Linked DNA regions of Homo sapiens: regions 2, 3, 4 and 5 are each linked to region 1. Evidence: fine-mapped expression QTL. A gene starts in region 1. Each other region holds a variant in brackets. All regions are shown on one strand. Distances are from middle to middle.

Evidence for each region. PIP is the estimated chance that this variant, and not a neighbour inherited with it, causes the effect.
Region 2: its variant is the best candidate, but not a certain one, in a credible set for the expression of PTK2B in esophagus muscle (GTEx, PIP 0.84).
Region 3: its variant is the best candidate, but not a certain one, in a credible set for the expression of PTK2B in whole blood (INTERVAL, PIP 0.85).
Region 4: its variant is the best candidate, but not a certain one, in a credible set for the expression of PTK2B in whole blood (TOPMed, PIP 0.57).
Region 5: its variant is the best candidate, but not a certain one, in a credible set for the expression of PTK2B in atrial appendage (GTEx, PIP 0.72).

What each region holds. Positions count from the first base shown.
Region 1 is chr8:27,322,523-27,327,693 of GRCh38, reverse strand. It overlaps PTK2B (protein tyrosine kinase 2 beta), which reads right to left and starts at 2,142. Exons shown (of 31, transcript NM_173176.3): 1 at 2,013-2,142. RefSeq lists a silencer at 59-255 and enhancers at 998-1,067, 413-1,242, 1,848-1,897, 1,948-2,097.
Region 2 is chr8:27,405,989-27,410,988 of GRCh38, reverse strand. The region is part of intron 2 of PTK2B (protein tyrosine kinase 2 beta); the gene reads right to left. Among named protein-coding and RNA genes, the nearest start is that of MIR6842, 25 kb to the left of the region's middle. The variant T/C (reference allele first, on the strand shown) is at 3,030.
Region 3 is chr8:27,437,556-27,442,555 of GRCh38, reverse strand. It overlaps PTK2B (protein tyrosine kinase 2 beta), which reads right to left. Exons shown (of 31, transcript NM_173176.3): 18 at 4,676-4,791; 19 at 3,425-3,525; 20 at 3,158-3,247; 21 at 2,115-2,319. Among named protein-coding and RNA genes, the nearest start is that of MIR6842, 6.7 kb to the right of the region's middle. The variant A/G (reference allele first, on the strand shown) is at 2,377.
Region 4 is chr8:27,395,633-27,400,799 of GRCh38, reverse strand. PTK2B (protein tyrosine kinase 2 beta) reads right to left here. Exons shown (of 31, transcript NM_173176.3): 2 at 3,012-3,252. The coding sequence starts at 3,215. Among named protein-coding and RNA genes, the nearest start is that of MIR6842, 35 kb to the left of the region's middle. The variant G/A (reference allele first, on the strand shown) is at 1,900.
Region 5 is chr8:27,367,358-27,372,528 of GRCh38, reverse strand. All of the region lies in intron 1 of PTK2B (protein tyrosine kinase 2 beta), which reads right to left. Among named protein-coding and RNA genes, the nearest start is that of PTK2B, 44 kb to the right of the region's middle. RefSeq lists an enhancer at 1,811-1,880. The variant T/C (reference allele first, on the strand shown) is at 2,492.

The sequences.
Region 1 (5,171 bases):
AATAAACTGACCAAGGAATTGATTTTTTGTTTTTTAAATGAGCTCATAATAAAATCCAGGAGGAATGGTTACAAGATAGACCTGAGACTGTTCTCAGAGTGCCTGGGCAGTTTCCAGCCTTTACTTCACAGCATTGCGCCAACCTCAGCTTCTCCTAGAGTAGGGTTGCCAGATAAATACAGGACACCCAGTTAAATGTGAATTTCAGAGAAACAGTGAATAATGTTTGAGTATAAGTATGTTCCATGTAGTTCATGAGACATATTTGTAGTGAAAAAAAAAACCATTGAGTGCTTATCTGAAATTCAAATCTGAGTGTCCCGTGCTTTTATTGGCTAAATCTGGCAATCTCTTCCTGCTGGGAAGTCTCCTGCCTGGCTCCAGGTCCCAAGTGTTGCTCCAACAGAAGTTGCCATGGCAGCCTGGCAGGCCTTCCAAAGCCTTCTAGAGCAGTCTCCACTCACCCCTGCAGCTTCCCCTCGCCCCTGCACGCTCTAGGTTCCCAACAAGCCCAGCTACTTTCATTTTCCTGGATGCCGCCCGCTGCTTCCAGCCTCCTGCTGCTTTTAGCCTCCAGTCTCTGCACTTGCTGTTCTTTCCCCTCTTCTCTTGTGCTAATTTCTAGTCATCCTTCAGCTCTCAATTTGGAGTCACTTCTGCCAGGACGCCCTCCTGGCCATTGCTGACTGGCTCCCCCCACAGCCCTCTAGTGCAGGGTTGGATAGTACCCTGCACCTTCCCCTGGCAGCCCTCCCTCAACCACCCGGTATCCCACACTGCCCTGGTGAGCAGAGGCCATGCCACACTCACCTTGTCCCCACACCTTGCACCTGGCCGCAGGTGGGAAGCCAGTGAGTGCCTCCTGAATGGATGACTGCAGACTGTCCCACCAATGCTGGGGCTCTCCAGTGTGACTACTTCCTTCCTCCCTTCTGTCTTTAGTCACTTTTTCATCAGTGTCCTCCTCCCCCTCCCCCAGAGTGGTTGGGAAAGACAGGGCCTTCAGCAACAGCACTTGGGGTGAACAGAGAGCATCCCACGTAGAGGGGCCTCCCAGCACCCACCACCACATCACACCACGTGCACTGCCCCAGTGGGCTCAGACCCAGCCACAGCGCAGCTTCCGAGTTCCTCCTGGCTAAAGCCACCTCTAGGCACAACTTTCTGCTCTTGTCCTTCTGCTGGCTCCTTAAATGAGCGGACTTGGATTTTGCTCCCAGTTTGGGGTATAGGGAGATGCCAGTGTCATGTGGTCGAGGCTTAGGGCAGGTGGCAGGGCTTGCAGAACATCACCCATATGCCGCTCCACGCTCACCCACCCAAAGCGGTGCCCACGCGCAGCCTGACAGCAGGCAGAGGCAGCTCTGAACTTAACCCTTGAGTGGCACTCAGGAGGCGGCTTCTCAAGATACCAGAATGGCCAGTGTTAACTACACACACACACACACACACACACACACACACACATACACACGAGCTCCCCTGTGCCCCAGAACACCCTTGCTTTCCTCCAGCCAGGGCTTGATTCAGAAGATGACCTCTCAGGTGCAAGGAGTGGCTGCAGGAGAGTCAGGGTGGGCTGGGGGTGAGACTATAACCCCTGGGGCTGCGGAAGGGCCCGGGAGGGAGCGGGGAGCGGGGGCAGGAGCTGAAACCCCGTGGCTCCCTAACCTGAGCTTTAGAGGCAGCAGCCTGGCTGTGCCCTCACACCGTCACCCCTAGCCTCCCCCAGCCTCCCCTGTCTGAATATGTTGAGAGGACAAAGAGGGAGAAACACCCTATAGTGTCAAATTTACTCCAAAAATAGAACCCCTCTTCCCCGCGGAAGGCTGGCGAGCTCCGGGCATGTGCACAGCACCCACGGCTCCGATTTCCTGGGTCTGGCCGTTTCTCCGGGAACTCCCAGCTCAGGTGCCCAGGATCCCGGAATTGTCCCCAACCCCTGCCACCCGGTCAAGCCTCCAACTTCTGCCGGGCGCAGCGCTCAGCCCTGGCTCGCGGGAGGGACTCACCCAGGGAGGCGCGGACTCCAGCGACTACTCCTCGGGCACCGCCAGGTGAGCCGGGACGGCGGCAAGTACAGGTAAGTCGGCCGGGCAGGTAGGTGTGCAACGGCTCCGGAGGCTGTGGCTGAGTAAAAGGGCTGACAGGTTAGATTCTCCCTCCTCCTCTGAGTTGTTAACCACACCCCTGCTGCTCTCCTCCCCACTTCCTTAAAGGGTGGGGTGTGTTGTCTGTGTGTGCCGGCTCCAGCCTCTTACCATAAACTCTGAAATAGACGCTGCCACCAATTCCCTGAGCGCCGGGCAGACCTGGGGGGCGATCTCTGCCATTCCCCCGGCCGCAAATGGGATCCTCGGATGTTATGTGCCCCTTGTGAGCAGTTAACTCCCCAATTCCTAACACCCCTCCATCCTCTGTCCACTCCACCTGCAGCCTTTTGGAGGCCAAAAGGTGTGTGTGAGGTGGGTGGGGGCGCAGGGCGGGCGGAGGAAACCAACTTCTCAGGCTGGTTCTCCCAAGACCCCCCGCAGTGGGAGATGTTATATCTACATGGTACTGAGCACTTGTGTCCTAATCTCTCCATGTCCTAAAGTGGCCCCAGTCCCTTTGCAGGCATGAAAAATCATAAATACCACTAGGGATTTTGGCAGAACCGGTCCAGGTCCCTGAACACAGAAGACCAGGTCCCTGAGCTGTGACTAAGTAGGGTCTGAGGACAGCACAAGAATAGTTAGAGATGCTGGACAGCCCCTTCCAGGGGCCCCGCCCAGAGGCTGGTCCCCTCTTTCCTCAGGCCGGTGATATGTGAGCAGGCACTCAAGGGCACTTAGCAACACTTCTTCCCTATCCCTAGGAAAACTCCAGACTTGCTCCTGAGTAGGAGGAGGAAGTGACCTGGACTTGGCATAAAGTGAAAAAAGTGGAGTGTACGCAGCATCATCCTCATCCTACAATGTCCTCTCCAGAGCCCCTGTCCCAAGCTTCTTTATTCTGTGTCCTGTGCAGGATTGGAATCTGATTCCCAGAGCTGCCCTGTTGCACAATTCTAGAGGATGCTATTCACAATGTACTTTCTGAGAATGGCGCCCCCTGGAGTTGTGCTGAGGAAGCACTCAGTTTCCAAGATTGCACTGACTCCTTCCCATTTCTGAAAAGAAACTGGAGACTTAGATAAGTTAACAAAGCTAGGAAGTCAATGTTTCTCAAAGTATAATTAGTGGACTACCCATAGCTATTGGCTGGATGTCACTCTGGGTCCGATGAAGATCAGACTCTCTGCAGCTAGGGCCCACCTGCCCAGCATGGGGCTCACAACCCATTGATGGGCACTGCCAGCCTTGACAGCTGGAGCCCCCCCACCCCTTCCCATTTGTGCTATTCACAGATTTGTCACGTTCCCAGCACTCAGCATTTTGGAGGTAATCTTGGTGACTACACAGCGGTCAGCAGGTCAGAAGGTGGTCAGGTGGGAGAACTTGGCCAGGGATGGAGAGGCAAGTCAGACAGAGGTACACTGAAGTTAGCAGGGAAGGTGTGGGGATGAGGAGGCAGGTAATTGACTACATGGCAAGGACATGGTCAGAGGGCATCTGACAGTGGGTGTCCCCTCCGTATTCTTGCGCTTGGAAATGAAGTGATGAAGGCTGAGTGGCACAAAAGTTAGATACCTGGGTGAGTTGTTGAGAGTCTGTACTAGGAGGTGGCAGTGGGAACTAAAAGCAAAGACAATCAAGACCTGTTTAAGAAAAGGAGAGTTTGTGTGTGCTGCCCCTGTGTGGCCACATAAATGAACTACAATCTTATCTTGCTGGGACCAATTCTGGGAAAGGTGAGTTTTCAGAGGTTGTTGAATTCTTCAGCACTTTAAAAAAAGAATCTCCCAAATCTACCTCACAGAATCATAAACCCATAGCTTTTTAAATGAAAAAGACATTGAGAAACTCTCTGGGGTGGCCAACTCCGCCATCAGGTCTCCCTAGGTTCTGTCCAGTGTCATGTACAAGCAACTCAGGTGACAAGGTCATGCATTTCTGCCTGTTACTGCCTTTTAAAAAAACCCATCAGAAATGCCTCAGGAGCCCTCAAATTCCATGGAAATCCCTAAAAGACACTATCCATGGCGATGCTCTCCATATGGCATAAGTTGCAATAATGATCTACCCCAGTTAGAGAAGAAAAATATTTCCCTTCTACTTCTGTATCTCAAGCTGACCAAGTGCCATGTGGGAGGCCCTAATTGTGGGGGTGTTGGGGGGATGCATACCTGGATCAGAAGAAGGAGAAAACTGTAATGAAAAAGGCCTTTGAACAAATGTCCTTTCAGCTGCTGGACTCTTCCATTTGGATGTTCCACTCTTACCCCAAACTCAGGTCTATAACCCTGGCTCATATTGCTCTTCAAACAAGCCCCGTTCCAGCCCTCCCTGTGAATGTCAACAAAAGAGAAGTCACCTTTGACTCTCCCTCTCCCTCCTTACCCTGCAGCCATGCAATCTCCAATCTCTAAGTCCTGGGAGTCCCACAAACTTTTTTCCTATTCCTCGTTTTCTTTCCTGTCCTATTGACCCATCCTGGTTCAGGTTCTCTTTTCTTATCTTTTCACTAACTGGAGATCACAAAGGTGGTTGAGCTGGTGATTAACTTTTGGGATGGCATTTGAAACCACAAGAATGGATAAACTTGTCTAAGGCAAGAGTCAGAGACAGCAGAGGACTTCAAGTGAAGCTCTTACCAGGAGCAAATGAATGAAGAGCCAAAGGTCAAGTGGGGTGGGCTGATAAGTAAACTGAAAGTGAAGACACAGAGGCGGCACGCGCTGATGAGTCCTGGAAAGCTTGACTGCCAAGGGCAATTGAGACCAGGGGATATTGGAGGGGGTCGTGGGTTGAAAGAGGACTGATTTGTCATTTAGGATGATAGCCAGTAGAGCAGGTTTCAATGCTCACAGGAAGGATCCAGTCAAGAGGGAAGAGGTTGTGACTTTGGACATGCGAATCCATCTTTCTGAGCTTTTATTTCCTAATCTAGAAAAGTAGAAAAATAAGTATTATCTGTTCTACCTGTTTCCCAGGGTATTGTGAAGCCCAAATTAAGTGATAGGTGTACAAATGCTATGAAAAATTCTATAGCTATAATTTTTAGAAATGATAGCAATTAAAGTAAGCTTT
Region 2 (5,000 bases), 83 kb before region 1:
GGCTCTCCGACTGCCCATGGCTCACAGCCTGGTTATTAAGAACCTTTGAATGCTTTCTTGCAAACATTAAAATGTCTATAGCTTTTCCTCCTGCTTGGCTAACACTGATTTAGTTGCTTTATCAAATAGCGTAAAGACTTCAAACTACCTTTGCCTCTCTCCCTATTCTCTGGCCTTTCTTCCTATAGGTCAGAAACAAAGAAGCAACAGGACCGGATGGCTTGTCTCTGTGCTCTGGATAATCTACTTCCAAAAAGGAAAAGGTGGTTGAATGAATTAATTACTCAGCTCACTTTCCTTCTCTTTTGTCAGTGCTCATCCATTTATAACTTTCTTCAGTGATCTCTATTGTCTCACTATTTTCTCAGGCTCACCTATTTCTAATAAAATACCTAATCTTTTTGGCTTTTTTCTTAATAAGCTTATTAAACATGTTTGATGTTAGTGGCTGGGTTTTTGAAAACAACATGACAGCTGAGTCCCCCACTGTCCTCCACCAGGATTGCTCTCACTCAAAGAGTGGCCCTTGCCTAAGGTCACACCTTTCCTAGGGGCCATCCATATTGAGTGACTGGTGAACACACATAATACCTATGTCCTTTCATCCTGATTTGGGACAGCTCTTCTGGCTCTAAGGCTCCAGTGGAATGGGCTGAGGCCTTTGCTGTGGCTGCATCGCAGCCCAACTTTTTCCTCTGCCCCATCCTGCTTTCTTCCCTCCCACTAGCTGTGTGCCTTGGGAGCTCCCATCAACACGCTTCCTCCAATGCAAGCCTCCCACCCAGGTCTGCTTCCCAGGAACCCCACCTGGGACAGTGGCTTGCAAACTGCTTCCCAGGCTTAATTCAATTCACCCTCCTTACTCTTTTCAAAGTATTCTTTTTTGTTTGTTTGTTTTAGTAAGATGACTATACTTAACATTTTAATAAATAAACTACACTTAAGCTTTTGTTGAAAAAAAGTCTTAGGCCAGGCATGGTGGCTCACACTTGTAATCCCAGCCCTTTGGGAGGCCGAGGCAGGAGGATCACCTGAGGTCAGGAGTTCGAGACTAGCCTGGCCAACATGGTGAAACCCTGCCTCTACTAAAAATACAAAAATTAGCCTGGCATGGTGGTGCATGCCTATAAAACCCAGCTACTTGGGAGGCTGAGGAAGGCCAATCACTTGAACCCGGAGGCAGAGGTTGCAGTGAGCTGATATCGCACCATTGCACTTCAGCCTGGGCCACAAGAGTAAAACTGTCTCAAAAATAAAAATAAGTCTTGCTTACATTTTATTTAAGAAGGTGTCACTCTGAGGTTGAGGACAAAATCAATGCAGGTGATTTTGGTGGAAAATCTCTCATTGGTTCCTCATTTTCTGTACAATCAGATAAGACCCAAACTAATGAACACAAGGCGTAAATCTCCCTTTGGGTTTTTTTCCCACATGTTCTTTCCAGTCCCATCCCCTCTGTACCCACAATGTGCTCTGTGCCTGGTCTCCAAAGTTGCTCTCTTTCTTCGCCCCCAACACAGCATGCTCTTGCTTTCCTCTGTGCTGAACACATTTAATTCTTCCTGCCTGGGGGACCCCTGGCTCCCCTCTCCCCCTTGTCCTTTCCTCCTGGTGAGCTCCCTGTTATGCTTTAAGGCCCAGAGAGCACTATGAGGGCCCCTGGGAAGCCTTCCCTGACTCCCTGTGATAAGGTTTTTGTTTCTTCCCCTGGATTCCAAAAAACTTTATACATCTATCTAGTAAGATACCATATGGGTTGAATTGTGGTTCCCCAAAAGGATATGTTGAAATCTTAACCTCTAGTGCCTTAGCGCAGGACTTTATAGAGTGTTTACAGACTAATCGAGTTAAAATGAGGTCATTCGGGTGGGCTGTCATCTAAAATGACTGGTGTCCTTAAAAAAGGGGGAAGTGTGAATGCAGAGAGAGACATGCACACGGGGAGATGGTGCAAGATTTGAGTGATGCAGCTGCAGGCCAAGGAGTGTCAAAGACCATTGGCGAATCACCAGCCAGGGAGAGGAAAGGACGGGTTCCCCTATGGACTTCAGAGGGAGCAGGGCCCTGCTGACACCTTGATCTTTAATTTCTAGCCTCCAGAACTGTGATACAATACCTTTCTGTTGTTTCACATCACTCTGTTTGTGGTGCTTTGTTAAAGCAGACCTAGGAGACTAATACAGACATTGACCAGTTAGAGCTAAAACAATGCTCCATGTCTGACCTTGGGTTAGACAGACACAGACAGTTGTTTTACTTTTAATTGGTATACGGTTATGAGAATTTTAATAAATTTTACTACCTATCTGGACAGCGATCCCCCAGTGATATCCCCTGTGGGGGCCAAGGCTTTTGGCTTCCTAAAGGTTCACTGAAAAAAATCACTGAAATGAGGCAGATTGATTAAAGGAGAAAAGGCATACAAATTTACTTAATATGCATACACAGGTACCTTCAGAATGAAGACCCAAAAATAGAGGAGAAATTGTCCATTTTTATGCTTAGGTTTAGCAAACAATGGACAGTCATGTAGAAATATGATTGGAGGAGAAGGGTCTGATCTAATGTTGACAGGCTGAGTGGGGAAACCCAGACAGGCCTGTCTGTCTAGATTCTTCTGGGCCTCTCTGAGCAGTGTTCCTTCCTGCTGGGTGCAGGGCAGGCCCTCTCTGGAATCAAGGCCTTATGACCTATAGTCCAACAATGTAGGTCAGATAATTTCTTTATGGCCTGTTTTTACATGGAATACTTTTAGGTTTTATGGCCGGATTTCTGTGGGGGAAAAGAGGTTCTGGTTTCTATGACCCACCTTGGGGAAGACAATCCTAGTTTCTATGGCACCTCGGGGGAGAGTGGGGCTGAGAGACAGGGGGCAGGAGAAAGTCAGAGAAAAACTTTTGCTTCTGAGGCTGCTGCTGAGGCCTTCATTTGGGGATATTGTTTTCTGAGCCCCAACAGTTCTCTCCCTCAAAGAGATTACAGTAAAGATTTAAATGGATTTCCAGTTATTTTTAGATGGCAGACTAATA[T/C]ATGTTGGAATGTGATGCTGTACTGAGACTGGCTTCAAGGTCAGAACAACTGACTGGCTTTATGTGGGTTACAGACACGTAAGAGCTTAGCACAATGGTAGGTGCAGAGCAGGTGCTCAAAAAATGGTAGCTAGCATTGTGATGGGTAAGGGGGGAAGGATGAACATGGCTCAAGGGTCAAGTCAACCTGAGGAGTTGATTAACCCAAGAAGTCTAGAATTAAGACATGAAGATGTGAGCTGGAAATGGAGTTCGGGGTCCTTGGGCCAGAGGTTCCTCTGACTCCCCTGACTGGGTGGGAACTGGCACCTGGGGAGACCCACCTCCCGGGAGCACCTGTCCAGTAGTGGCTCTAAATTCTTCCAAAGGCTGAGCCCTATAGAGGGGTACAGGTGGTTGAAGGAAGCAATCCCTGAAGAAAGGGATCTGAGGCCCTTTGTGAGCTGGAGCCAGCACCAGCAGCAGGTGGGTGAAGTGCAGTCAAGGAGCCTCATAGGATGATCAGGTCATGACCACGGCTGATCCGGCCATGCCAGTGACTGGGATGAACAATGCAAAGAAAAATGACTTCCTTCTGCTTCAAGCAAGAGAATCATGAAGGGTTTTATGTTCCCAGGGCAAAGAAAAATGACTTCCTCCTGTTTGGAGCAAGAGAATCATGAAGGGTTTTATGTTCCCAGGGCCTGGATAGCAGGCTCTTCCCTTGCACCTTCTGCTGTGTGTGAAGACGGGAAGTAGAGTTCTGAGAAGGCAGAAAAAAGGCTGAAAAGGTTAACAAAAGGCCTTTTCTTTAGAAGGCCCTTTCTTTCCGCTCACTATATTGAGCAGAATATAAGTGTCTCTGAAAAATAAAAATGTTCTGTTAAAAATGAGACCATTCTGTCAAAAATTCTGATTTACCCATAAACCGTATGAAGCGTTCTTGATGCCACGCTGAGATTGAGGAGGGATGAAGAACAATAAAGATCAGTTGGGAGAGTACCAGGTGGCCTTCACAGATTTTTCCCCCCAAAGTCCCCCTACTAAAATATCTTTTAAAGCAGTTACTATACCATTCTTTCCGGTGACATGCAGTGCCTGCCTCAGAGCAGGAGGGGCAGGTGTCGCTTCAACATGACAGGTAAAGTTTTATTTTTCACATGGGGACTGGGTTCAGAGCATTCATGGTACCATAATGCTTCCTAATTCACATCAGTGAATCTCAACAGGGTACCACTGGCACTTGGGGCAGGAGGATTCTTTGTTGTATGGGACTGTTCACCCATGGCAACAGCCCACCCACCAAATGCCAAGCCCCAGCCCCAATCATCGTGAGAACCATGACAATGTGCCAACTATAAAGGGCCCCTACACATTTCCCGCTGCCAACTTCCAGGAGGTGTGGAACGGCTCCTGGGGAGAAGAGCTGACTCACACATTCGGTGAGTCTCTATTTTCTTCTGCACATACCCCAAAATGACATAATTAAAGCTTTTAAATGGACAAAAGGCCCACTCACTGCTGTACATCTGGGTACACTGGTCTGTGTGTGCCTGAATGGAGGTACCAGTGACAGATACTATGATCTGAATTGAAGGTCATAATGGGTTGAATGGTGGCCCCCAAAAGATATGTCCATGTCCTAACCCCAGAATCTGTGAATGTGACCTCATTTGGAAAAAAAAATGGGGGGCTTTGCAAATGTAATTAAGTTAAGGATCTCAAGATGAGATCACTCTGGACTGAGTGGCCCCAAATCCAATGATAAGCATCCTTGTAAAAGATACAGAAAAGAGACACAGAGAGAGGAGAAGTCCACGTGAAGATGGAAGCAGAAGTTGGAGTGAAGTATCCATAAGCTGCGAATGCCTAGAGCTACCAGAAGCTGGGACAGGCAAGGAGAGATCCTCCCCTAGAGCCTTCAGGAGAACTGAGTCCCTGCTGACACCTTGATTTAGGACTTCTGGCCTCCAGAAATGTGAGAGAATCATT
Region 3 (5,000 bases), 110 kb before region 1:
TGGGCTTGTGATTGGCACCAAACCCCTATGTAGATTTCCAAAGTCCCAGCCAACTTCATGGCCCTGGCCTAGAATCTACATCTCCTATTTCTCATGAAACATCCCCCAACGCATCCCCGGTATGTGCTAATGAGGCATGTGGGTTCACTCCCAGGCTAGCCATGTGCGCGCCTCTCACCTTTCTTACCCAATCCAGTGCTCCTAACCTGGAATCACAGACCCCAGAGGACTCTGGAATTATTACTGCCCATGAATCCACATGTTCATATGGGTAGCAAGTATTATATACTACTGAATATGTGACACTTGATACTATATTTTCAAGTGTGTATATATTTTATTATGTATAATAAAAATGCATTATATAGCCCACTACATTTTGTTCAGCAAAAGATTTTTAAAATATAACTATTGTTACACAGAGACACTCAAAATTTGACATTAGAAGGGCCTTTCCTCCCTGGAACGGTTAGGAAACACTGATCAAATCCCTTCTGAACTCTAAGGAGGAAGAGTCAGGTGGTGGTCTGAGGAAGCAACCTGGGGTCTTCTGAGTCTTTCAGTGTTTTCCAGATCACACCAGAAACCTGCTCCCACCTCCACTTGTGGCAGAGGCCTGGTCGATGCCTCTGATGGGAACACCTCTCAGCCCAGGAGATGATGGGAACACCTCTCAGCCCAGGAGAGACACCTGCACAGCTCCCTGTGGCTCTCAAGGCCTCAGAGTGAATCAGGACTCCCAGCTCCATCCCCCCAGGGCTTTTAACCTCCCAAATTACATCCTTCAAATACTTTTATCCTGCAGCCTTTTGACTTCTCAAACCTCCCATACAAGGGACCAACACAGGAGTCTAGAATTAACTGGGAGGCTCACTGAAGGGATAGAGAGGAACAGAGATGCCTTTTAAGCCAGAGGTTTTACAGATGATGTTGAAGGCCCTGCCCCACAGAAAACATGCAGGGTCACCCTCAGTGCCCCTGGCCTGGGCATTGCTGGCATCCCCTGGGGTGCCTCCCCACCAGGCAGTTTTCAGGGACTGTTTACTTGCCCTAAAATCAAACAAGGCAACATGTTGACTACAGTATTTAAAATCAGTATTAAAGTACAGTATTAAAAATATTTTTCAAGTCAATTAAGTTCCAGACTCCCTAAAGTAGGGTTCAGCAAATAAGCGCCCAGAGGGAAAATCTGGCCTTTCATCTATTTTTGTATGGACCCAAATGAAGAATGGTTTTCACATTGTTTCAATGACTGAAAAAAATTAAAAGACAAAAAATATTTCATGACACATGAAACTTATTTGAAATTCATATTTCAGCATCCAAAATGGTGTTTCACTGGAGCCCAGCTACACCCATTCATCGATGTATTGTCTGTGGCTGTTTTTGAGCTAAGAGAGTTAGCAGTTTTGGCAGAGACTTGCATAAACAGCAAAGCCCCAAATATTTACTATTTGGCCCTTTATAGAAAATGCTTACTGACTCCCACCCCAGAGGAAACCAAAAGAAGTCAGATCTCCCACAGGAGGGCTAATGGCAGGCTTGCCACCAAGAAAACTGGGGGACCCTGAACCTCTGAAACAGATGACCTTCTTCCCCAGTGACCTCCCCAGACCTAGGGAATCATGGCTCCTGGGCACCGACGGGCCCTCAGGTCCCTTATCCCCCATTCAGAAGGGAGAGGTGGCCCCTGGGTCATAGTCTTGAAAACAGGTCAAAGATCACTCCCTTCCTTGCTATCTGGGAGGAAAGATCAAAGTCGAGAGACAAGGCGAGAGGAAAGCAGGTAGGATGCCTCAACATCACAAAGAGCACAGGCACTTCGATGAGAGTCTGGCTCAGGCTTTTGAGTCTAACCTAGAAAATATTTTCTGAGCACATCCTTTGAACAAGGCTCTGTGCTCTGTGTTGACAGATGCCCAGATGAGTCAGGCTTCCCCACGGCTGCCTTATCTCTGAGCTCATATCTGACAGTGAACCTGGCTTCAGCCTCCTGTCCTTGACCCTGGCCCGTCTTCTTTAGGGAGATGTGGTGCAAACCTCTCTGTGTGCTGGTCTTGCTCCCTGGTGCAGCCGGGTGGGCCCCCAGCCCACAGCCCACACTCCATGCTCACCTGAGGCTGCACACCAGCTCGGTGAAGCGGGGCCGGTCACTGGGGTCGTAGTCCCAGCAGCGGGTCATGAGGGTATAAAGGACCGGTGGACAGAGATCAGGCTTGGGCAGCCGGTCTCCTTTCTCCAGCACCCCGATGACATCCTTGTTCTCCAGCCAGAAGAAGGGCTGCTTCCCAAAGCTCAGGATCTCCCACATGCACACGGCTGGGGTGTAAGGGAGCGTCAGGCCCTGGGTGGGGGAGACCAGTCCCTCCCACCCAG[A/G]AGCACCATCGCCATTAGCACTCAGTCTCCACCAGGAGCAGCTCCTGCGGTCCCTCCTCCTCCTCCAGCACCCTGGGGTCCTGCCTACCATGGTGGTCTGCCCGAGGGACAAGTGACCTACCTCTGCAGTAAGTGACCTAAGGCCTTGCTCGCTAGACCCCTGTCAGGGTGCTGCAGGATCAAGAGGTGGCAGTCATGGCATGCTATTGGGACCACAAGTGTCTTCTCTTAGGAGGGAGGGGAGCCACTCCTTAGTAAAGCTGGAAATGGAAGCCTCGCACCAACACTTGGTGCCTGTGTGATTGCGGGCAGGCTCCTGACTCATCTGAGCCTCAGTTTTCGTAACAGGAAAATGAGAGTAATAATAATGTTCTACAGGGTTGGCTGTGGGAGCACTAAGTGAGATGGTTTGCAGGAGGTGTTCCGTAAGGGGCTGTCTCTCTACACCTGCCTTTGCTCTCTCTCCTTCCTGTACCTCTCTCAGAATAAGTCACAGAGTTTCGTCTTAGTTTCTGGGGCTGGTAGGTGGAGCACACATGTCACAAGAGCCTCTTCCAGGAAGATGAGCCTGCACAGCCCAGGCCAGTCCTTAGCCTGGGTCACTCCCCTTCCTACCCCTACTGGCCTCCCCACCTCTGAGACTTCTCAGTGGCCACAGCAAAATAGAACCCTGGGAACGGAGGGTGGAGGTCAGACCCCTGCTCCCTGCACCCACCCCCTTAGCCTGGTTCAGAAGTGAGAATCTGAACACCTTTTCATGCCCTCCCAAATCAGCACTCACCGAACATCCAGACGTCACTGGCTGTCGTGAAGCGTCGGAAGTTAATGGACTCTGGGGACATCCATTTGATGGGGAGACGAGTCACAGAGGCTTTGGGTGGGCAAAGAGGTTGATTTTTAGGGAAGAAAGATCAGAATTATCCAGAAATACATCCTACTTTCTGAAGACCCTTAGCCTGGGCTGTCCAACTGTAGACTTCCTTCTTCTGGAATTTTTGGCTTCAGCGACCCCTCCAAGGCCAATGCAGAGGCTGGGAAGCCCCCTCACCTTTGTAATAGTCCTCGTCCTCAATGTACCGGGAAAGACCAAAGTCCCCCAGCTTCACACACTCAGGGGAGGCCACCAGGATGTTCCGGACAGCAATGTCCCTGGAAGAAGGGCATCAAGACCAGGATGAGGCACTGCCCACCCCCATGGGAGCAGGAACAGAGAGATGGACAGACAGATGGAAAAAGAGACCAAGAATCTAAGCCAGGGACTCGGACTCCAGAGCAGAATCGGGCAGCTTCTGTGGGTCACTGCCCCCATCGAGTGGTCTTGCCACAGCACACCTCAGGTGGGAGCCCAGCTGGCCCCTCTGCACCCCAACATGCACAGGTGCTTTGCCATCTCCTTCCCTCTTGCTGTTGGGCTCTGTCTCCCATCACCCCTTCATCCATCTCCAGCTTGAAGCCTGGCTCAGATTCCTGGCATCTGCTACACTCCACTTCTGTGCTGTTGCCTACACTGTCCCCCATGCCAGGGAGGCTGTCACCTGGTGATTCTTCAAGGATAAACTCCAACCACTTCCCTGAACACAGGTATTCTCTCTCATCTGCATTTCCACAGGACTGGTTAGGTCTTTGGTATAGCAGGAGTGGCAGCGGCAGCACAGCTAACTCTGATGGGGCACTTAGGATACCAGGATCGCATGAGAGCTTCACACACCCTGAGTCAGGCACAAGGCCACAGAGCCAATGTCAATGGTGGGTAATGCCCAACCACTGACTCCCTTGGGGGTCAGGTTCTCATGGCAGGGAATGGGAACAAAGCCAGGTAAAGCAGGGGCCAACTCCACAGCCACAGGGAGACTTGGATTTGGCAGCCCAGGGGTGTCGGCAACCAGGGTGATGTCTGGCCTAGGACCCCAGGATCTTCTTGGCCCTGCTCCAGCCCAGTCCCTTCTTCCTGGGCCATGTGCCACCAAGCCAGGGAGCTGGAGGTGAGCAAGCTCTGAGCAAGGTTGGGGGCGATTTCCTGGCACTCACAGGGGAGGGGCTAGAAGGTCTTGATATATAGACAGACACCTCGGACTTCAGAGTTACTCGTAACAACCCCATGAGGTACATACAGTGCCTGCAACTTTACAGATGAGGACACAGGGTCAGAGAGGTTGCTCAAGTGCTCAAAGCTGCTGGGCCAATTGCTGGGATTCCAACACTGCTCTGTGTCACCCACAAGCCCTGCTTCTACCCAGAGGCCTTGAGGATCTGGTGAAGGCCTGGCTTCCATACCGCTGGCCACTCCCTCCACCCCTACCTGTGCACGCAGTTGATGCTCTCCAGGTAGGCCATGGCTTTGCATATCTGCAGTGAGTACAGCACGAGGGTGAGCACCTTCAGGGAGTTCTTGTTCCGCTCCAGGTAGTGGCCCAGCTGCAGGAATGGGGAGGTGCCATCAAGACCCCTGGTTGGTCCCAGTATGGAGCCAGGGGACCAGGGTGCTGGCAACCCCTGACCCTTCCCTGGGGGCGGTGGGAGACAAACCCAAAGCTGGCAAAATGTTCCAGCAATTTCCTTGACAAACAGGGCCTCTGGCTTATTTCAGTGGAACACAGAAGTCAGGAAGCTGGGAGGAATGGGCT
Region 4 (5,167 bases), 73 kb before region 1:
ACGCTCCTCCGTGGGGGTGTTTCATAAACACTTTAAACACAACACATGTAAAGCTGAAATCTCAGAATGCCCTCCCTTTCTCTGTCTGGATCTCAATGAATAGTACCAACACCCATTTAGTCGCCCAAGCAAAAGCTTGAGTCATCCTTTTCTCCTTCCTTTCTTTCCCTCCCTATATCTAGTTAATCATCAAATTCTATTGACTCTGTCTCCTTAGATGTACTCAATTACGTTGATTTATCTCTATTCCCAACACCATTCTCTTAGTCCAGGTCCTCATCATTTTCCTTTTGCAGTATGACCACAGCCTCCTAACCCATCTCCCATTGGCCAGGTTTTTTTTTTTTTTTTTAATTCAATCCTTTTTTCTCTGCTGTCAGAGTTTAGGGGAAAAAGTTCCCTAAATGATTGGCCAGAGATCTAGTGGTTTAAAAGGAGGGTTTTTTAGGCAAATAAGAAATTGTTTATTTAAGAAAATATCACCTCTGTGGCCCTTCTTAGTGATTTACCAGGCATATCAGCCTATTTAAGGTTCTGAGAAGTCTTATTGCAAAAGAATCTGTTCAGAATTGTTTAACCAAACATTTCCCAATCTTTTTGACCACACATTCCCTTCCCGAGGGCACACTTCTTAACATCTTGCAGAACACCATGTTGTTGTTTTAGAACACAAATCTGATCATATTACTTCTTTATTTGAAAATAAGACAGATACCTGGATAGACACCAAAAGAAGACAATTTGCACTTTATTCTCTGGGCAATTAGAGGCCCTTGGAGATTCCTGAGCTGGGTAATAACCTAATACCCACACAGTCAATAGCCTCCAGTTATGGGCACTGCTGTGTGCTTTGTGCTTCTCCTCCACCATCTCCAATCCTTACAGCATGATCCCCGGGTGAAGAGACTGAAGCCCAGATCAGTTAATCATTAGGTCCCAGGCCACACAACCAGTAAGGATGGAGCAGGACTTGGCTAGAAGTCTAAGTGGCTTTAAACCCTCAGCTATTTGCAATAAGCAGGTGGCATTTTGCCTGCAGGAGACATTGGAAGCAGGAAAAATCAGAAGGCTTGGACATATTCCTGGAAGTCAGTCACTTCTGTTCTCCACCTCTGTTCCCCACCGACCCCAGATAATGCCTCAAAGCCATTCTTCTTAAGCCTGGGTCTCATTGCCTTCTCCATAGGCCTGTTGTGTTACTTTCATCCCTTAAACACCCAGCAGGGTATATCATACAACTCCAGGAATATCTTGCCCCTGCTTAAAAATATGTGTTGTTCCCTAGTGCCTGTCCATTTCCAAATTTCTCTGCCTGATATTCTAGGCCCTTCATTCTCTGCTGTCAACTTTCCTTTTTGATCTTGATTTTAGATACTTTTCTAAATATAATCCATACTCCAGTCAAACTGAACTACTTACTGTTCAGAGGCCTCCCTGCCTTTTGACATGCTGTTCCCCACTCTTGGAAAGCCTCTTCCTGTCCCCAGTGTCACTGCTTTAAATCCTACCTCTTTTTCAGGACCCTTTTCACTGCTGACTCTATGGAACATGTCCTAATATGAACTAACCTGCTGCTCTCTGTTTTTCAGCACAAAAGAACAATGAGGTGCTCCTCCCTAAACTTGGAAATCAGGTTAACTTCTGAAAATTAAACTAGTAAAATTCACAGTGGATGGCATCAGCTCTTTGCAAAAATGATATACCCAAAGGAAGACTCATGAAGTGGATAAAGAGAGAGGAAAACATCCTCCTGGAGGAAGATGACCAGGGCTTACTCTCAGGACACAATTGTGCCTTTATATCAGAAAGATGAGCAAACAAGGCCCTAATCAAATCAGTTACAGGAAACAGAGAGAGCCAATCAAACTGTAATCAATGGTGATAACTGGCCATGACAGT[G/A]ACATAATCAATTACACTCTGCTCTGGTGTGTGGAAGCACAGCGTGTGCTATAGCAGACGGAAGGCAGCCAGGATGATGTGGCCAGGGCACAGCAGTACTAACGAAAGGAAACATTCATGGAGTTTAGGGACACTGGCTTTCAGGACATGGGAAAGGTTGGCTATGAGCTGGAGATGGCTCATCCCATGTCCTCAGACCTGATTAGCTTTCCCAAAAGTTCCTGCTTCCTTTGTTCAAATTACCCACTAAGCAACCTGAGAACCAATCTGGATTTCCCTCCCATCATCAGAAAGGGGTGCTCTGGGCAGAGGAAAGGTATGTCCTCAGTGTATCTACTCATGGGGATGCTGGGAAGATTTAATGGAATAATGTGTGTAGAGGGATTGGCCCAGGCTCCACACAGTAATTGTTCAATAAATGTAGATGACTGAAATTAGTTCAGCATGTTGGAGCTCTGCTTATGATGACAATCTCATATACATTTGGTTAAGGTGAACTGGCATCCTGGTGTCCAGGTGCCCTGATGAAGGTGGGTACCTGGACCTGCAAAACAGATGTTGTGATTCTGGGTAGGAGTGAGCAAAAGGACGTGTTGCCAGGCAGGGCACCTGTTAACCCTCCACCTGGCTCAAAGCACCTCTACTTCATTGTCATCCTCTAAGTGCCCCACCAGTGCCTTCCTGTACATGCTCAGCACACAAGGCTTATACCAGTTTTGTTCTATTTTTAATGCAATCACTTGTGTATCTCTAATTCCTATTTCATCAGAGTGTAAACTCTTTGAGGACAGCAGCTTTTAAGTCCCTTGCAGAGCTTCAAGTATCATAAATACTTAATAAGTTGAAATGAATTGAATCAGAGGCCAAACAAATTATCTGGGGTTCAAGCAAAGGCTACAACATGTGTTTCCCAGGCTCCTAGAGAAGTAGTATGGGAACATCTGGAGAGCAGGCCTGGTGATGCAGGCTGAGCACATCTCTCTGATGCCACCTCACCTCTTCCACCCAGGGGTGGATATGGGAGAGCTGCGAGGCTGCAGGAGAGCTGCTCAGCTGCCCAGGAAGAAGACAGAGGGACAGACAGATGGACAGGGCAGACACTTCACACTTACCCGGATCTCCGTCTGGACAGTGCATTTGACCAGTTTGAAGTTTTTCCCAGGATTGAAGCTGTTGCTATAGAAGCAGACCTTGAGGATACGCACGTCCTCCTTTTCCACATCTACTGGTACCACCACCATGGGCTCTGCAGGGCCTTCAGGCCGGCGTAACGTGCCCAACTTTACTCGACTCAGGGGCTCGGACACCCCAGACATCCTCTCAGGCAGCAGCTAAGATCGGCACATTGCAGTCCTGCAGAGACAGCAGAGGGTCAGCCCTGAAAGAGCCCCACACAGGCCCACATACCTCATGGCCCCAGGGACAGCACCCACCGAGCTCCAAGACAGACACAAATGCTATATATTCTCCCATTCCCAAAAGCTCCCCTGCAAGGCACCTGGCTCTCTTGACTGGGAAAGATGCAGCAGAAAGGGGCAAGTTGCAGAAGCATCCAGGTATGAAACCCAGACTTGGGGCTCCCAGGGGTATGAGCTCTGTCTCCTGGAAGCCCCTCTCTCTGACCCATTCCTCCCTCCACCCTGGCACCCAGGCAAGGGGCCCACCCTTAGCAAAGGCAGCTGTGAGAGAAGGCGGTCACAGCTTGGTTCCAAGGCACAGCTGAGCAGAAAAAGCAAAGAGTGAGACAGTAGAAAATAGCAGGAGAGGAACAGGGACAAGGCGGAAAATCTGAGAAGAAACAGATTGGAGAAGAAGTGGCCCCGAGGGAATGGGAATGGAGAAGGCAGGAAAGGGCCCAGGTGGAGGGCCAGGCTGTCAACTGATGCTGTCCACCCCCATCCTCAGCTGCCAACAAAAACTTTCAGGGTGGGAGGCTTCCGTCTGACAGGAGCTCATCACATAGACATCACTGATCACATGCAGGAGGATTCAAGAGGAACAGCGCTCTGCCCAGCAGCCCCGCAGGGAAGGGCATGCTGCACATGGGAAGGAGCTGAGCTGGGACTCTAGAAAACCCAGCCCAGTTCTGCAGACAGCCTGGGTTGACACAGATGTAGATGATAAGAATCCTAGGAATCTGTAGTTCACCTTGAATCAGCAACATTGGTCCTGGCCTCTAGGTCCAATACAACTCAGTAGAGTAGGGTTTATCTCCCACTGATCTAAAGCAGGGAATGCCCAAAGGAAGAAGTGGATATTCTAGCTCTAGATGGATGGCATCGGCCTTAGCTCCACATAATCACTAGGGAAGCTTTCAGAAACCCTAAACCAAGCCCTAACCTCAGACACTGCTGTCAAATTGGTCTGGGCTGAGCATTGACATATTCGTTTCCCAGGACTTTTCTAACGTTTGGCCTGGGTTGGAAACCACTGTTCTAGAACGAGCTTAGCTCTTATCCTGAAACCCCTTCTTAAAGAAAAATATCCCCTTTCTAAGAAGAGACTGTGATTTTAGAGGGAGGGAAATTCCTTGACCAGGAGTTGGGGGCAAAATGATGGAGTTGACAATGTTAAAACACGAACATGGAGTCACACATTTGAAAAGTGGAATCATAGCCTGTATGTATTTATTCACACTGTGCTGGACAATAGAAAAGAAAGATTTAGATAGCCATTAGCTTCAAAGAGCCATTCCTTTTTTAAAAAGTGAATATGTATTACGAAGATGCAAAAGAGAGGCAAGGATGAGAGAAGGAGCTGGGCATGTCCTTCAGGTCAGGGGCAGGCAGACAACAGGCAGCACCAAGCTCAGAGTCCACAAGGGCAGCAAAATGTGGCATAAGACCTATGGAGAGAAGAATATGCAATCTGCTTTAAGATATATATATTCTTATCTAAAAGATATATATATATTCTGGAAGTATCTGTCTATTCTAGAGGTATCCATACCATTTTCCAACAAACATCTGCTGGACATGTCCTGTGTGTCAATACTCTGCTATGTAGTGAAGATGTAACCCGGATCCCCTGACCTTCAACAAGGAATCCAGGGGGAAGTCGTTTGAGAGGTAACCCCAGGAAACATCAGAGAAATGATGACAGGGAGGGGAAAACAGCTAATAAGAGTGATCAAGTGAGTTATCGCTTGCACAACCACAGTTTAATCCTACTGGGAACTCTAGGAGCCAGGAAAGAATGGACCCCACCCAGAGAGGGAGGGATCTGGGGTATTTATACACCACTCTTACAGTCATTGTTCCAGCATATC
Region 5 (5,171 bases), 45 kb before region 1:
CTCCCTAACGAGAATGGGCCTCATACAATCAGTTAAAGGCCTAAATAGAACAAAAGGCTGACCCCCCTGCTGAGTAAGAAGGAATTCCTCCTGCCTGAGGACCCTCCAACTGGGACACCAGCTTCTTCTTGCCTTCAGAATCAAACTGAAACATTAACTCTTCCTGGGTCTTGAGCCTGCCGACTGCAGATCTTGGGACTAGCCAGTCTCCATACTCCTGTGTGCCAATTCCTTATAATAAATCTCTTTATAGACATCTCTACATCTTGTCTGTTCTGTTTCTCTGGGGAACTTGGACTAATACACTCCCTTTAATTAAAAGACAGTTACGCCTTTGAGGAAGAAACTGAAGATTTTATCAAATGAAACTCCTCTTCTGGCTCACTGACCACATTTATATCATATTTCTAGTGTTGAATATAGTCACAATAGCAACTACTGTTTATCAAGTGCTTTGTATGTATCAGGCATGGGGTTAAGCAATGCATATATGCTTTCTTATGCAATCCACATAACACCCTGTTCCCCTTGCAGAACATATGAGTGTCCCTAGCTCAAGCGTCATATTGGTACTTCCCAGGCCATGCGCCTCTGCCTGGATCGGTGCCTGGCACACACGAGGTGCTCAGTAGATTACTCCTGAAATCAGGAAGTGAACTCTTCTTTAAAATAGATTCTGTTGGCCAGGCATGGTGGCTAATGCCTGAAATCTCAGCACTTTGAAGGGCCAAGGTAGGCAGACCACCTGAGGTCAGGAGTTCGAGACCAGCCTGGCCAACATGGTGAAATCCTATCTCTACTAAAAATACAAAAATTAGCAGGGCATGGTGGTGCATGCCTGTAATACCAGCTACTTGGGATGCCGAGGCAGGAGAATTGCTTGAACTCAGAGGGCGGAGGTTGCAGTGAGCCAAGACTGTGCCACTGCACTCCAGCCTGGATGACAGAGTGAGACTCTGTCTCAAAATATATATATATATATAAATAATAAAAATAGATTCTGTTTATATTCCCATATTACAGATGAGAAAATGGAATCTCAAGAACAATAAATAACCAGCCCAAGGTAACAGAGCTAAGAAATGGTAGAGCTGAGACATACCTCCAAGTCCCTTGAGTTCAAAACTCACATTCTTCACGCTATGCCCATTCCCAGTGTGCATGGAAGAACCAGGCCCACCTCCAGCCGCCGACCTTGGCATTCACAACACAACTCTCTCAGCCGGCAAGAATGCCCTCTGTGTAGCTCCCTCAATGCTCAGCAAGCCCAAGCTACCCCCAGGCTGACAGCTTTACTCCTGGACATTCCACTGGGGCTTATAAAGACTAACTTGGGGCCAGATGTGTTGGCTCATGCCTGTAATCCCAGCGTTTGGGAGGCTGAGGCGGGTGTATCACTTGAGGCCAGGAGTTTGAGACCAACTGGCCAACATAGCAAAACCTGGTCTCTACTAAAAATATAAAAATTAGCTAGGTGTGGTGGCGAGCACCTGTAGCCCCATCTTCTTGGGAGGCTGAGGTGGAAGGATCATTTGAACCCAGGAGGCAGAGGCTGCAGTAAGCCGAGACTGCACCACTGCTCTCCAGCCTGGGCAACTCTGCCTCAAAAAAAAATAAAAATAAACTAAAAAGACTAACTTGAGAGTCTCACCACAGTTTTCTCTTTAAAAATAAGAGAAAACCAAGAGAGGAAACCCACTGAAGTCTCAGATCATCCTCTTTTCATCATAGAGTTGCTTTCAGGTAACAGGGGGAAAAAGGTCTGATGCACAGGCTGAGAAGTGAGACCACGGAGCAAGATGAGGCTGACCACACTTGGGCCTGGGTAGAAGGTCGTGAGGCAACATACCCAGTTTCCAGGAACTCCCTGTCCTTGCATTCTGCATTGCTCTTGAGTCTCATGTGGATGAAGCTACACAGCAGATCAGCAGATAGAGGATGGGTGGTGAGTGGAGTTAGGCATATTTTACAAAAGGGAAATCATACCAACCACAGGTAAGGGACAAGAGAGGGAAAGGATGAAGGCCGTAACGGAAGGGCTCTGGATAGACCACAGAGGAGGTGAGTGATATGCCTGGGCCTTCACACACTGTCAGACTTACTGGTTTACAAAAGAGTAAGCTAATAACGTGGTCTTGAATGTGGCCACATATACATGTCTCTTCATTTGCTCCTTAATGATTAAACCTTCCCACCCTCTGGTATCCGGAAAGCATCTCTGATTGCCCTGTTCTTCCTAGAAGCCATCTCAGTCCATAAATCCACTGGGTAGTGCACATCTGCTTTGTCCAAGACAAACAATGGTCTGATTTCTCTGTCTCTTGCAGCATCGAGCTCCCTTTCACTGATTTCAATACAACACAGCTGTTCTGATAATGATATAGCCAGGTACGAGGAAAACTGCACAGAGTGTTATGGCTCCTACCTGAACTCCCAAGAGCTCTGAGACCCTGAGCCCAACACATCTTCAATGGAGACCTCAGTTGCCTCA[T/C]TGAAGCAGAATGCTGGACCAGCTCTGATAATCTCTGACTTAAGTTCTTTCTTTCTTTTTTGAGATGGAGTCTCACTCTGTCACCCAGGCTGGAGTGCAGTGGTGTGATCTCAGCTCACTGCAACCTCCGCCTCCTGAGCTCAAGCTATTCTCCTGCCTCAGCCTTCCGAGTAGCTGGGATTACAGGCACATGCCACCATGCTTTGCTAGTTTTTCTATATTTTTAGTAGAGAGGGGGTTTTGCCATGTTGGCCAGGCTGGTCTCAAACTCCTGCCCTCAGGTGATCCACCTGCCTTGGCCTCTCAAAGTGCTGGGATTACGGGCATGAGCTACCACACTCAGCCTTGACTTAAGTTCTTTTGTTTTTGAGATGGAGTCTCACTCTGTCACCCAGGCTGAAGTACAGTGGCACGATCTCGGCTCACTGCAGCCTCTGCCTCTTGGATTCAAGCAGTTCTCCTGCCTCAGCCTCCCCAGTAGCTGGGACAAAAGGCACCCACCACCACGCCTGGCTAATTTTTGTATTTTTAGTAGAGATGGGGTTTTACCATGTTGGCCAGGCTGGTCTCGAACTCCTGATCTCAGGTGATCCACCCTCCTCGGCCTCCCAAAGTGCTGGAATTATAGGCGTGAGTCACCACACTAAGCCTTAAGTTCTTAATACATGAACTCCTGTGTCACTTGGCATTGGGTTCTTTGCAGATAGAAACCCCTGGATCCCCCAGGCCCAGCACAGGGCCTGGTCATCTCAGGTCCCCCTACATGCCAGTGAAGGGATCCTGTGATTATAAGAGGGTAGAAGGTAAGCTGTAGGGCAGGGGGTGTGGAGGAAGAGGTCTTAGGGCAAGGCCTTTAAGAAGAGGGAAGTGGAGGTTGGAAAACATGGGGAAGAGGGAGGGCATAAGGAAGAGATGTTATTCCATTCTGCTTTCAACATAATATCACAGCTCTGTTTATTCTGAGAAGCAACCAGCTGCAGCTCCAAAATAGAGATGCTGAGAAATGCCTCTGATGACAGAGACTGCTGCTGAGGGAACAAGGTTAGAACAGCCCTTCACAAGGGCTGGAGTGAGAGAGGTCCTGAGAGGGGAGACACTCCTGGATCTCTTTCCACTTCCGCCCTGCCCACCCCTGCTTCCTCCTTCCTAGCCCAAGGCAGCCCTAGTTCTTCTTTCCAGGGTCTCCGGGGCCCAGGGCAGGCACATGACAGAGCAGAGTGTGGCCCTGCCGTCACTCCAGGCCCCAGCAAGAGTGGTCAGTGTTCCTGGACAGAAGCTCCATGGCCAAGTGGGACAGGTGGCTTCCTTCTCCCTGGACCTGAATACCCTTTTCAAGCAATGTTGCTGGGAGCAGAAGAGACAATGAGATAATGGGATGGAACCAGAGGGTTTGCTAAGTGTCTGTGTTAAGAGCTTGTGTGTGATTGCACATGTAAGCAGGAGCAAAATCACACCAGGTGAAGTTAATCAGGCAGGAAGCCTTGTTTCCAGTTTATTGCAATAGGGCCAAGACTATTCCAATAGGGGAGGGAGATTGAACTCAATTCCTACCACAAGGGGAACAGCTGGGGATTCACAGCCAGTGGGCAAGGTGAGGGAGTCAGTGGAGGGATGAATACCAAGGGGAATTTGGTGAGGTAGTGATGGTGGCGGGGTAGGGGGTGAGGGGGTAGTTCTTGCTGGACTTTCTGGAGCTTAGCAGGCCAAGGAGCAGGGTGGGGGAGCCAAAAAGAGGGCTCAGAGGAGCCTGCCTAAGGTTCGGTCAAGGAGGGAGTCCTTGTCAGTGGAAGGAAAGCAAAGAGAGCAGGATATTTGGGGACATAGCCGTTCCCCTCCCTCACCCATGTAAGCATCAGCTCTAACAGGAGCCACCCGTCCGTCCCGCACTCACTCCATGGCAGAGAGAAAGGACGGTCCTAGGCCATCTGGCGTCTGCTAACAAGGGCAGCATGGGTTTGGGCCCACAGAGGCCCATCCCATCCCCAAAGCAGGCCAGCCTGGGCCTGACTCCACAGCACCCTATTCCGTGGGGCCTGCTTTGTCCCCTGGCTCTTGTGGAATCAGAGACCCTGATACGGTTTAGATGTTTGTTCCCTCCAATTTTATGTTGAAATGTGATTCCCAGTGTGGGAGGTGGGGCCTGGTGGGAGGTGTTTGGGTCATGTGGTGGATCCTTTATGAATGGCATGGTGCCTTCCCCATGTAATGAGTTTAATGAGTTCATGTGAGATCTGATTGTTTAAAAAGGAGGCTGGCACCTCCCCTGCTTCTATCTTGCCATTTGAGATGCCAGCTCCTCTTCCCTTCTGCCATGATTGGAAGCTTCCTGAGGCCTCACCAGAAGCCAAGCTGATGTTGGTGCCATGCTTGCACAGCCTGCAGAACCATGAGCCAATTAAGCCTCTTTTCTTTATGAATTACCCAGCCTCTGATATTCTGCTACAACAATGCAAAGAAATTGATACAAACCCTGAAAGGACTTTCCCCATCAAGGCCCCACTGCATTTGCTGGGGACTGACCTGGGGTGACTGAGGAGAGAGGCCATCGTCCTGGGGGCCTGTCACCTTCCTCCTTGTTGAAATGGACACTTGGCTAAACATGGACAGGTGGGCAAGCCCAGACACCCCGCACCTGGGCTGTTCAGTCCCTCACCATCCCCAGCAGGACCAGTCCAGATGG